2 separate regions of the Homo sapiens genome follow, and region 2 is linked to region 1. The links come from fine-mapping of genetic effects on gene expression. A gene starts in region 1. The other region holds a variant in brackets. All regions are shown on one strand. Distances are between the middles of the regions. Region 1 holds the start of USP30 (ubiquitin specific peptidase 30). Region 2 overlaps USP30 (ubiquitin specific peptidase 30).

Region 1 (5,378 bases):
CTTGAACTTGTAAAAATGCAGTATCTTCGAAGCACAATAAAGTGAAGTGCAATAAAACAAGATATGCCGGGCGGGGCACGGTGGCTCACACCTGTAATCCCAGAACTTTGGGAGGCCAAGGTGGGTGGATCACAAGGTCAGGAGTTCAAGAGCAGCCTGGCCAATATGGTGAAACCCTGTCTCTACTAAAAATACAAAAATTAACTGGGCGTGGTGGCGGGAGCCTGTAGTCCCAGCTACTCGGGAGGCTGAGACAGGAGAATCACTTGAACCCGGGAGGCGGAGCTTGCAGTGAGCTGAGATCACGCCACTGCACTCCAGCCTGGGCCACAGAGCGAGCCTCCATCTCAAAAACAAACAACAACAACAAAAAAACAAGATATACCTATATACCTCAATTTTAAGGAAACAAAAATTCTCAATTTTAATTTCTAACAGAGTACAGTTAGATATAAACAAAATCCCTCAATCCTTTTTAAGCGTACAAAGAGATCCGGAGAACAAAAACTTTGAGAACTACTGATCTAATGCATTGATTTCTTTTGTTTTGTTTCTGTAGTTGGGGCTACAGGTATGCGACACCACCCCCAGCATGAATGCAATTACTCAGTCTGGAGTCGGAGAAAGCGATTGAAAGGGAGGGAAAAATCTTGCTGGCTCTAATGCTTTATAAACTGTGCTGTCCAATACGGTAGCTGCTGGCCACTTGGGGCTATTGAGCACATGAAAAGTGGGTACTCCAAACTGAGAGGTACTTAGTACCAAAAAACAAAAAAATAATGGGCCGGGCGCGGTGGCTCACACCTGTAATCCCAACACTTTGGGAGCCCGAGGCGGATGGATCACGAGGTCAGGAGTTCAAGCAGCCTGACCAACATGGTGAAACCCCGTCTCTACTAAAAATACAAAAAAATTAGCCGGGCGTGGTGGTGTGCACCTGTAATCCCAGCTACTCAGGAGGCTGAGGCAGGATAATCGCTTGAACCTGAGAGGCGAGATCGTGCCATTGCACTGCAGCCTGGGCGGCAGAGCAAGACTCCATCTCAAAAAAAAAAGAATGTAAATTATCTCATCAATAATTTTCACATAGAAATGACATATTTTGTTTTTCTTTTCTTTGTTTTTCGGTAGCCATGGGTTCTTGCTATGTTGCCCAGGTGGCCTTGGACTCTGGGCCTGAAGCCATCCTCTCACCTGGCCTCCCAAAGTGCTGGGATTATAGGCATAAGCCACTGCACCTGCCCCAATATTTTGAACATATTGGGTCAAGGAAAAAATATGGTTAAAATTAATTTTACCTCTTGCTTTTTTTTTTTTTTTTTTTTTTTTTGATGCTGAATCTCTCTCTGTTGCCCAGGCTGGAGTGCAGTGGTGTGATCTCAGCTCACTGCAGCCTCCGCCTCCCAGGTTCTAGCGATTCTCCCGCCTCAGCCTCCCGAGTAGCTGGGATTACAGGCACGCGCCACCACACCTGGCTGATTTTTGTATTTTTTAGTAGAGACGGGGTTTCACCATATTGGCCATGCTGGTCTCGAACTCCTGACCTCAAGCAATCCGTGCCCCCCACCCCCACCCCCCGGCCTCCCAAAGTGCTGGGATTACAAGTATGAGCCATCGCACCTGACCTCTTTTTTTTTTTTTTTGAGATGGAGTCTGGTTCTGTCACCCAGGCTGGAATGCAGTGGCATGATCTTGGCTCAGTGCAACCTCCACCACCACGGTTCAAGCAATTCTCCTGCCTCAGCCTCCTGAGTAGCTGGAATTACAGGAGCCTGCCACCACGCCCGGCTAATTTTTGTATTTTTAGTAGAGATGGGGTTTCACCATGTTGGCCAAGCTGGTCTCGAACTCTTGACCTCAGGTGATCCACCAGCCTCGTTCTCCCAAAGTGCTGGGATTACAGGCGTGAGCCACGGCGTCTGGCCTACCTCCTGCTTTTCACTTTAATGTGGCTACTGGAAAATGTAAAATTACCTATGTGGCTCCTGTATATTTCTGTTGGAGAGTGCCATTCTGGAGACAGACAGACCGAACTGCCAATCTCTGTTTCACCACTTACAAGCTGCGTCAAAAAACTTACTATTTCTTCAAATTTCCTGGGTTCCCTGGGATGTAAAATGTGGGTAATGTTAGAGTTGGTGTGAATATTAAATGTAAATAATGAATGTAACATACTTAGCTCTATACCTGGCACCCAAGTAAACAATAAGTTTGTTGGCTATTAAAGACGTTGATTTCTCTACTGATATCGTCAGAGATGGGCCTCATGCTCATTAAAGTTCCTTCCTCTGCGACCTATTTCCACTCTGGCCACAATAATAACTAATTATAGCAGAGGCCTGACCCGACTTTCGGCTGTTGGCCTCCCTTCCCCACATCGAAAAATTCAAATCATGACCCAGGGTCCATCCTAGAAGTGTGCCATCTGTATTTATGAATGGAGCCTAAGCAAATCTGAAAACCAAGCAGCCCCAGGCAACTGAGCCCAGCGTAGCAACCGACGCCGGGGCCTGTTGCTAAGGGAAAAGAAAGAAAGGACGTGGTCCGTCAGCTATTGCTCTCCGGGGGCAGCTACTTCCGGTCCCCCTGGGAGCTGTCCTGCGGTCTACGTTCCCCCGAGGTGCTGGGACTGCGGCCGCAGGTTCCGCTGTCTCGGGAACCGTCGTATCCCTCGGTCCGGCGGCGGCGGCGGCGGTAGCGGAGGAGACGGTTTCAGGCCTCCGGTGCGGCTGCAATGCTGAGCTCCCGGGCCGAGGCGGCGATGACCGCGGCCGACAGGGCCATCCAGCGCTTCCTGCGGACCGGGGCGGCCGTCAGGTGAGATTTTGGGGGGCGGGGCTGCCGAAGAGGCCGGGACCAGGGTCCCCAGCTTGGGCCCGTGACGGCTTTTTCATGCCCTAGTTGGGGTCTCCAGGGCCCGCGCGGGCATTCTGGAAGGTTCTGCGTCCTTTAGGGTTGGAGGCCTGGGCCCGTAGGTGGGAGGACTGACGGGCTCCAGTCCTTCGGCAACACCAATTCTGTCTGCACTCCCCAGGTCTGTCAGTCCCTCCCCCTCCTGTCATTGTTCCCAGGACACCCGGGGCACTCCAGTCTTGTCAAGGCCCCTAATTCTGTCAGTGCCCTCAGTCCTTTCAGTGCCTCCTAGGCCTGCCAAGACCCCTCAATCCTTCTAGTATACCCCCAGTCCTTCTGGGTCCCCCAATCATATCAGTTTCTGGACTGCCAGGGTTCCCCAACCTTGGCACGGTTCTTCTAGTCCTATAAGTGCCCCGGGCCTGCGAGCCCCGCGTTTTGTTAGTACCGCCCCCTATTCCTGTTAGCCCGCCCTCTAGTCTAATATGGATCGCCACTTCTGTCTGGGTCCCTGATGTTGTTAGTGTGAGTAAAGGCCCTTGTTTTGCAAGGGTCTCTAAATTGGTCAGGGCCCCTTTAACCTGTTAAGGTTGCTTGGTCCTGTTAAAGCCCTCCGTTCTTGTTAGGACTCCTCGATTGCCTGGGTCCCCAATCCTGTCAGGGCCCCCATTTCCCTCTTATTCACCCTCCCAAGGGCTCCAGGCTTCAGAACTGAGTACCCCCTCCCCCACTGCTGACCCCAAATGACTGAGACCTGTTGCTCAGGTCGGCTTCCTCTGGAACTGGAGCAGGTTTAAAGAGCTTATTATCCCAGGGCTGAAAGTCCTCGATACTTATCCTGTCCAGTGCCCCCATTCCGTAGATAGGAAGTGTGGCCCCATAGCTGACCTCATAGCAGAGTTGGGAGGAGAAGCCAGATCTTTTCATCCGCAGGCCCCACCACTCTCCTCGTGATGTCATTTTGCAGAGGAATGGAGTTTCCAAAGTCGCCACTTGTCCCTGGGTATTTTTTCCTTATGCTGCCAAAGTCATGGACAAGTCCTCTCTCCCATCCCCTTGACACTCTTCCCTTCAGTTTCCATCTTGAACTTCGTGGTTTTAAGCACAGACCTGGGGAGACAGACAGGCATGATTCAGAGCCATGTTCCTTCACTCACTGTGACCAAGTTGGGCTCTTAGTTTCTTCTGCTATAAAAATGAAAGTGATAGTAGAACCTGCATCTGTGGGGTTGTTTTAAAAATGAGGTAAGATTGTCACAGGGCCTGGCAGAGAGTATGTACCCTTAAATATTAGTGTTTGATTAGGGGATTTTAAAGCACTGGTAAAGCACCTTAGCACTTCCATGACAGTCCTTTATAATCTTTCCAGGCACTTTTGTGAACTCACGTATCGTGTAAAAGCACAGTGATGTATTAAGAAACTTCAAGAATACCTTTCACCAGCTGGGCATGGTGGCTCACACCTGTAATCCCAGCTCTTTGGAAGGCTGAGGCAGGTGGATTTCTTGAGCTCAGGAGTTCGAGACCAGCCTGGGCAATGTAGTGAGACCCTGTCTCTACAAAAAAATTTAAAAATTACCTGGGCATGTGGTGTGCAGCTGTGGTCCCAGCTACTTGGGAGGCTGAGGCAGGAGGATCACCTGAGCCCGGAAGGTGAAGATTGTGTTGAGCTGAGATGGCACCACTGCACTCCAGCCTGGGCACTAGAGCAACTAGAGCAAGACACTGTCTCAAAAAAAAATAAAAATAAAAATAAGAAAAAAAGAAAGAATAGCTTTCATGAATGATCCTGAGATTGTAATGCTTAATTTGTAGCAGCTAACATTTATTAAGTTCTTACTATGTACTGTATGCATTCACACTTATTTAATCCTCACAACAGCCCTATGAGGTAGGTCTTATGGATTGTCCCCATTGTACAGATGAGGAAACTGAGGCTTAGAAGGTGAAGTGATGCCAAATGAAATAGCAAAGCCAGGATTGAACCAGAATAAGGTAATCCCACTTTCTTAACCAAGTTTGGTGCATATTCTGTTGACTCTGTCTTGGAAAACAAATATTTATCTGAAATTCAGCTATCAGCTATGATACTAAGAAATGCTGATTATTATAAAACAGGGTCAATATTACCACCAGTGACTCTTCACCAAGTTAATGTTTACTGAACTGAAATCAAAACAATATTCACATGATCCAAATACTGGGATAATAATGTATTACACACACACACACACAAACACGTATGTATGCATGTGTAACATATATGCAGATACACATTACATAGCTATATACACATAGATGGTTTGTCTTATTTTGTAGAAATATATAACTTTGTATAAAAACAATGTTTTAAATTGTTGGGGAAATTTCTTAATATGTAGCAAAAGCATAACCAGCGTTCAAGTCAAGCCTGAAGTTAGGAAATCTTTAATTTTATAAATATTCAGCTCTTTTATACCATTGTATGTGTGCCCCTTCCCTGTCTAATATTCTAAAAGAGAAATTCATTTCTGTATATTTTCTCC
Region 2 (5,378 bases), 32 kb after region 1:
GACAACTGTACAAAGGTATGCATTGAACCCCAAATGTCATCGCCAGCTGGCCTGTGTGTGCTGATGTAGCGCCTCTCACACCAGTGACCCTGAGCTCTTCTGACTGTATCCAGTGGGTCTTTTCAGCCACTTCTACTTCTCCCTAATTTGGTTTGGACATTGGCAGCTCATGGACCAAATCTCTTTCCCAGATGAGTTTTGTTTCATGCACAGTGTTTAAAGAATAAACTGTCACGCTGAGATGAGAAATGCCCTCTCCAGTTTGCTGCAGTTGCCTCCAATCCCATTTGTTTTACACCCTTCCTTTTAACCTGTGCTACCTGCCTGACTCCCCTAAGTAACTTGAGTTTTCCCCTCTGACTCAAGAGGAACTGTATGGAACAGAATTTTTGAAGACAGAGAACAATTAATAGATGACATGCCAGTGTCAGAGCATCAGTGTTCGCTCTTCACATTCTCTTCCCTCCACTGTTTCTGTTATTTAATGACTAAGAGGGATCAGGGAAAACAATTCACAAATAACTGGGCAGCTGGGTTCATTTCAGCAGGTAGCAGTCAAGTGCCAATTGTGTGCCGCTATAACACCACTGTGGTCTGCAGCACTCCAAAGCTGTCCTATTTTAGGCATTGCTGCAGAGAAATGTTCCTTTTATTTCAGATTGAAGCCAAGGGAACGTTGAACGGGGAAAAGGTGGAACACCAGAGGACCACTTTTGTTAAACAGTTAAAACTAGGGAAGGTGAGCCCACACTACACACCCTGTTGGCTTTGTTTTGAGGACTCCGTGTATCCTGCCCCTGAAACAACTCGGTTCTCCCGATTTCTCTTCCACCCGCAGCTCCCTCAGTGTCTCTGCATCCACCTACAGCGGCTGAGCTGGTCCAGCCACGGCACGCCTCTGAAGCGGCATGAGCACGTGCAGTTCAATGAGTTCCTGATGATGGACATTTACAAGTACCACCTCCTTGGACATAAACCTAGTCAACACAACCCTAAACTGAACAAGAACCCAGGGCCTACACTGGAGCTGCAGGATGGGCCGGGAGCCCCCACACCAGGTGTGTGCGCGCGAGGAGCCGATGCAGCAGGAATTTTCAGCACAGAGAAAAGCAGTTTGGCATCACCACCTTCTGGGTCCCTTATGACAGGAGCACAAGGCTTGTACAATGGTGCTTAAACTCTTGAGAACAGCAGGATTGGGGGTGGAAGAGGGAAGATTTCTTAGAAGAGGTTAAAATTATGTAGCAGTGAGATGTATCGTTTTTGAAACCATATTACAGATGAAAAAGTACAGAGAGAAACGCTTAAAATTGCAGCTTTGCCTTCTAATTTTTCCGCTAAATGATATAATCATTGGCTCACATCATTCCAGTGAATTTCTTTTTTCGGTCATGTCATTTCCTGTCAGTAGAGGAAATGTAGGGAGGACATGTCCTGGCTAAAGATCACTGAGCCTCTTCTGGGGGTTGAAATGCCTTCTGTACTGAATTATGTATCTGATTCCATTACTGCCCTCAGCTGAGGTCTCATTTAAGCCGGGTAGCTATTATCGCCGGTCTTACTGATAAGAACATGGAGGCTCCACGGGGTTGAATGATTGGTCCAAGGGCAAACACCACACAGGAGAACTGGCCCTAGAATGCCATGTTGGGCCATTTTCTAAAGGTGTCTCATGTGACACACTGAGTTCTTTAGAGTTAGACATGAGGAAAACCCACTCACTTGAAGGGCTCACAGCCTGAACTCACCACCTGTCTGCTGCCCCCAGTTAGGTCAGGATTGTCTCACACCCCATACTTTCCTATTTAGGGTCCCTTACTCCTTTTGTTCTTTTTATGACCACAGTTGCATGGCCCGACACCTCATCATGTCAGGGAGATTGTGTTTTCCTCTTTCTCATCAAGTCACTAGATTAACATCGAAAAGAGATGAGGTAGGGGACAGACTCTGGTTCAGTCCTTGGCCCTGGTTTTAAATCAAAGACCTCTGCACCCCAGCTTCCCCATCTCCTGGGCTGGGGTGCAGGTTTACTAATGTTGAGAGCATGCTGGCTGTGGTTAAAGATGCCAGCAGTAGGGCCACTCGTGGTGGCTCACACCTGCAATCCCAGCACTTTGGGAGATTGAGGTGGGAGGATTGCCTGAACCCAGATGTTTGAGGCTGCAGTGAGCTGTGATCACACCACTGTGCTCCAGCCTGGGCAACAGAGCAAGATCCTGTCTAAAACACACACAAAAAATGTCATCAGGAAACTACTTGGTACATAACAGCCCCCAAAAATGACACTTGAAAGGAAAAGACATGTAAATATGGCCTTAATTATGTTGTCTACCCATAAACATGTATGAATGCTATTACACGTTGGTATTCCTTAGAAGCTGACAGAATTAAAGCAAATAGAATGCTTAGATCAGTGGTTCTCAACTTGGAGGAGTTTTGCCTCCCAAGGGACATTGGGCAGTGTCTGGTAACATTTTTGGTTATCACTACTGGGGGAGGGGTGCTACTGGTGTCTAGTGGGTAGAGGCCAGGGATGCTGTTCAACATCCTCTAATGCACAGGACAGCCCCCGCAACAAAGAATGATCCAGCCAAAACCATCA[T/C]GGTGCTGCTGTTGAGAAACCTTGGTTTAGGTCAAAAGCCAGTAAATTAGCTACTGATTAACTTTGATACATGGCATTAGCAAACAGGGCTAGGAAGCTCAAAGATCCCAGGCTAGCCGTAAAGCTGGAGCTAGATACACTTTTCCTATTTGGGATTAAGACAGATTATCCCTATTTGAGATTAAGGATAAAGGGCAGATTATTTTATGAATCTATATAATACCAAATGAAATAGATTTTTTTCTTTGTAGCATTATGGGGAGTTAACTTTCAAGGTAATCAAAACCAGGTTTTGTTTACAGAGCCACTGCTAATTTTCATTGACTCGGGCCTTTTTCTCTTGCAGTTCTGAATCAGCCAGGGGCCCCCAAAACACAGATTTTTATGAATGGCGCCTGCTCCCCATCTTTATTGCCAACGCTGTCAGCGCCGATGCCCTTCCCTCTCCCAGTTGTTCCCGACTACAGGTGAGCCACCCTTTACAAGCCCCATCTTAGAGCTACCACTGCTCTTAGCTTCTAAAATTAGCTTTTCACAGAAATGAATTAAGGAAAATATAGATGTTTATTTTTCATTTTAAGGTGAAGTTTCACGATTACACATTCCTATTTATTTTTGTCCAAAATGGAAATAACTTTTAAATTAAAAATTTTTAAAGTACATAAAATTTACATATGCATATGTATGTGTGTATATATGTGTGTATGTATAAAATATAAAGAAAATTTAAAATTTCTTGGGATACCATCTAGAGATAGCCAATTAAACACTTAGGGTCATGCACTCTATAAAGTTGTACATCACACATACATATAGTGTACATAAACACATACACTCATTGATACAAACATCCACATATACACAATATACATATACTCATAGAATGTACATCTTGCCATGCCAGTAAATACAGATCTGTATTTTAATAGTTGTGTAGCATTTGGTGGTATGGACTTACCATTGTATTCATCCCCTATTTAACATTAGCATTCTTTTGTTTTTGCCTATAAAGTCTTTTTGTTAAAATTGTAAACCCCTGACATGTGTTCGTATCATTCAGCTCCTCCACATACCTCTTCCGGCTGATGGCAGTTGTCGTCCACCATGGAGACATGCACTCTGGACACTTTGTCACTTACCGACGGTCCCCACCTTCTGCCAGGAACCCTCTCTCAACTAGCAATCAGTGGCTGTGGGTCTCCGATGACACTGTCCGCAAGGCCAGCCTGCAGGAGGTCCTGTCCTCCAGCGCCTACCTGCTGTTCTACGAGCGCGTCCTTTCCAGGATGCAGCACCAGAGCCAGGAGTGCAAGTCTGAAGAATGACTGTGCCCTCCTGCAAGGCTAGAGCTGATGGCACTGTCTGCACTGTCCAGGAAAAAAGTAAAACTGTACTGTTGCGTGTGCAAGCGGCCCCACTAGAGCCTTCCAGCCTTCTGGTGTGTTCTAAGAGCAGGCTCCACCTGGGAGCCAGCCCCAGTTCACACCAAACCAGGCTCCCTGAACAGTCCTGTTCATGTGTGTAGGTGGTTCTGTTGTGTTAAGAAAGCATTCATTATGTCCGGAGTGTCTTTTTACTCATCTGATACAGGTAATTAAAAGAACTCAGATTCTTGAAGCCACCGTTTTCATATTGTAATGTTAGGTGTTCTCAGAGGGGAGGTACCTTTGTCTAATCAACGTTTCCACTTAGATCTTTTATTTTTAATAAGCAGGCCCATAAAAATTGTTGACAAGAATTAATGAAATTATTAAAGGCAACAATTTAGAAGAAAAAGTGCCTTTCACTTTCGATTGCTTTTGTAGCACGTCCATTGTGAAATATTCCTTCCAGGCTACTCAAAGGATAGCAAGAGAACAGGTAAATGATGCCTAAAGAACACCTTCCTTTTTCTATGCCTTTTCTAATCTTTCAATTCTTTCTATGGAGTAAAGGCTCATCTGCCAAATCTGCCCCCTGGGGAAACTCTTTCACTACTTTGTCAGTTATAAGTGAAGAGCTTACTTGTTGCTTTTATCTTTTGTATATTGGACTGAGATGTAATTACACTGTATTATAAAACTCTGTGAATAGCCAGAACTGAGCTGGATCTTTGCAACACCTGATTCCTCTGCTCTGTGGAAAACTTTTTCTTACACAAGGATCCACTGTGGACGGTTACTTTCATCTGTTTATTTATTGCCCATGCAGAGCTCTTAAGGTTTACAGGTGGGAGCTTGGGGCTGTATAAAAAAATAATCCCTGCCCTGAGTTGACACCTGGCTTAGGAAGGAAGGGCTGACTATGGGGCTGCAGTCTCTCTGAACCTCAGTTTCCTCATTTGTGAAGTGAAGGGTTAGATTTGATGACCACCAAAGTTCAGCCCTTTTCACGAAAAGGAGAAAGCAGCTTTTGACTTTTTAAAAAACATATAACTACAGCTGGCATCTAGTATTGTCATGTTGCTCTAGGTCCATATTCTGAATTTATTCATTTCCAATAGCCTAATACAAAAAGTATATATTGAGCACTTTCTTCCCTTTTCAGGTAAGTCTCTGAATGCAGCCCAGGGCCAAAGGAATTTTGATGACACAGTAGTACCTATGTTTTAAGCTATATTTTTAATTTAGAAAAATGGATACCAAATTCAAACCGACTCATCAGAGGTAAGATTTGGAATCAGACCTTTCCAAAAGGTCATCTGAGGTAAGGCTAAGACCGCACTTCCTCTGCTGGGGGTGAGCTGGCAGACACACCAAACAGTGCCTTGGCAGCAGCTCACAGTGCAGGAAGCCCA

What was found. PIP is the estimated chance that this variant, and not a neighbour inherited with it, causes the effect.
Region 2: its variant is the best candidate, but not a certain one, in a credible set for the expression of USP30 in whole blood (INTERVAL, PIP 0.78).

What each region holds. Positions count from the first base shown.
Region 1 is chr12:109,049,945-109,055,322 of GRCh38, forward strand. It overlaps USP30 (ubiquitin specific peptidase 30), which reads left to right and starts at 2,632. Exons shown (of 13, transcript NM_032663.5): 1 at 2,632-2,817. The coding sequence starts at 2,735. It overlaps USP30-AS1 (USP30 antisense RNA 1), which reads right to left and starts at 4,021. Exons shown (of 2, transcript NR_038996.1): 1 at 3,742-4,021; 2 at 2,097-2,794. RefSeq lists enhancers at 2,826-3,325, 3,659-4,028.
Region 2 is chr12:109,082,005-109,087,382 of GRCh38, forward strand. USP30 (ubiquitin specific peptidase 30) reads left to right here. Exons shown (of 13, transcript NM_032663.5): 9 at 1-15; 10 at 659-739; 11 at 839-1,058; 12 at 2,949-3,069; 13 at 3,663-5,378. The coding sequence ends at 3,927. Among named protein-coding and RNA genes, the nearest start is that of ALKBH2, 8.8 kb to the right of the region's middle. The variant T/C (reference allele first, on the strand shown) is at 2,603.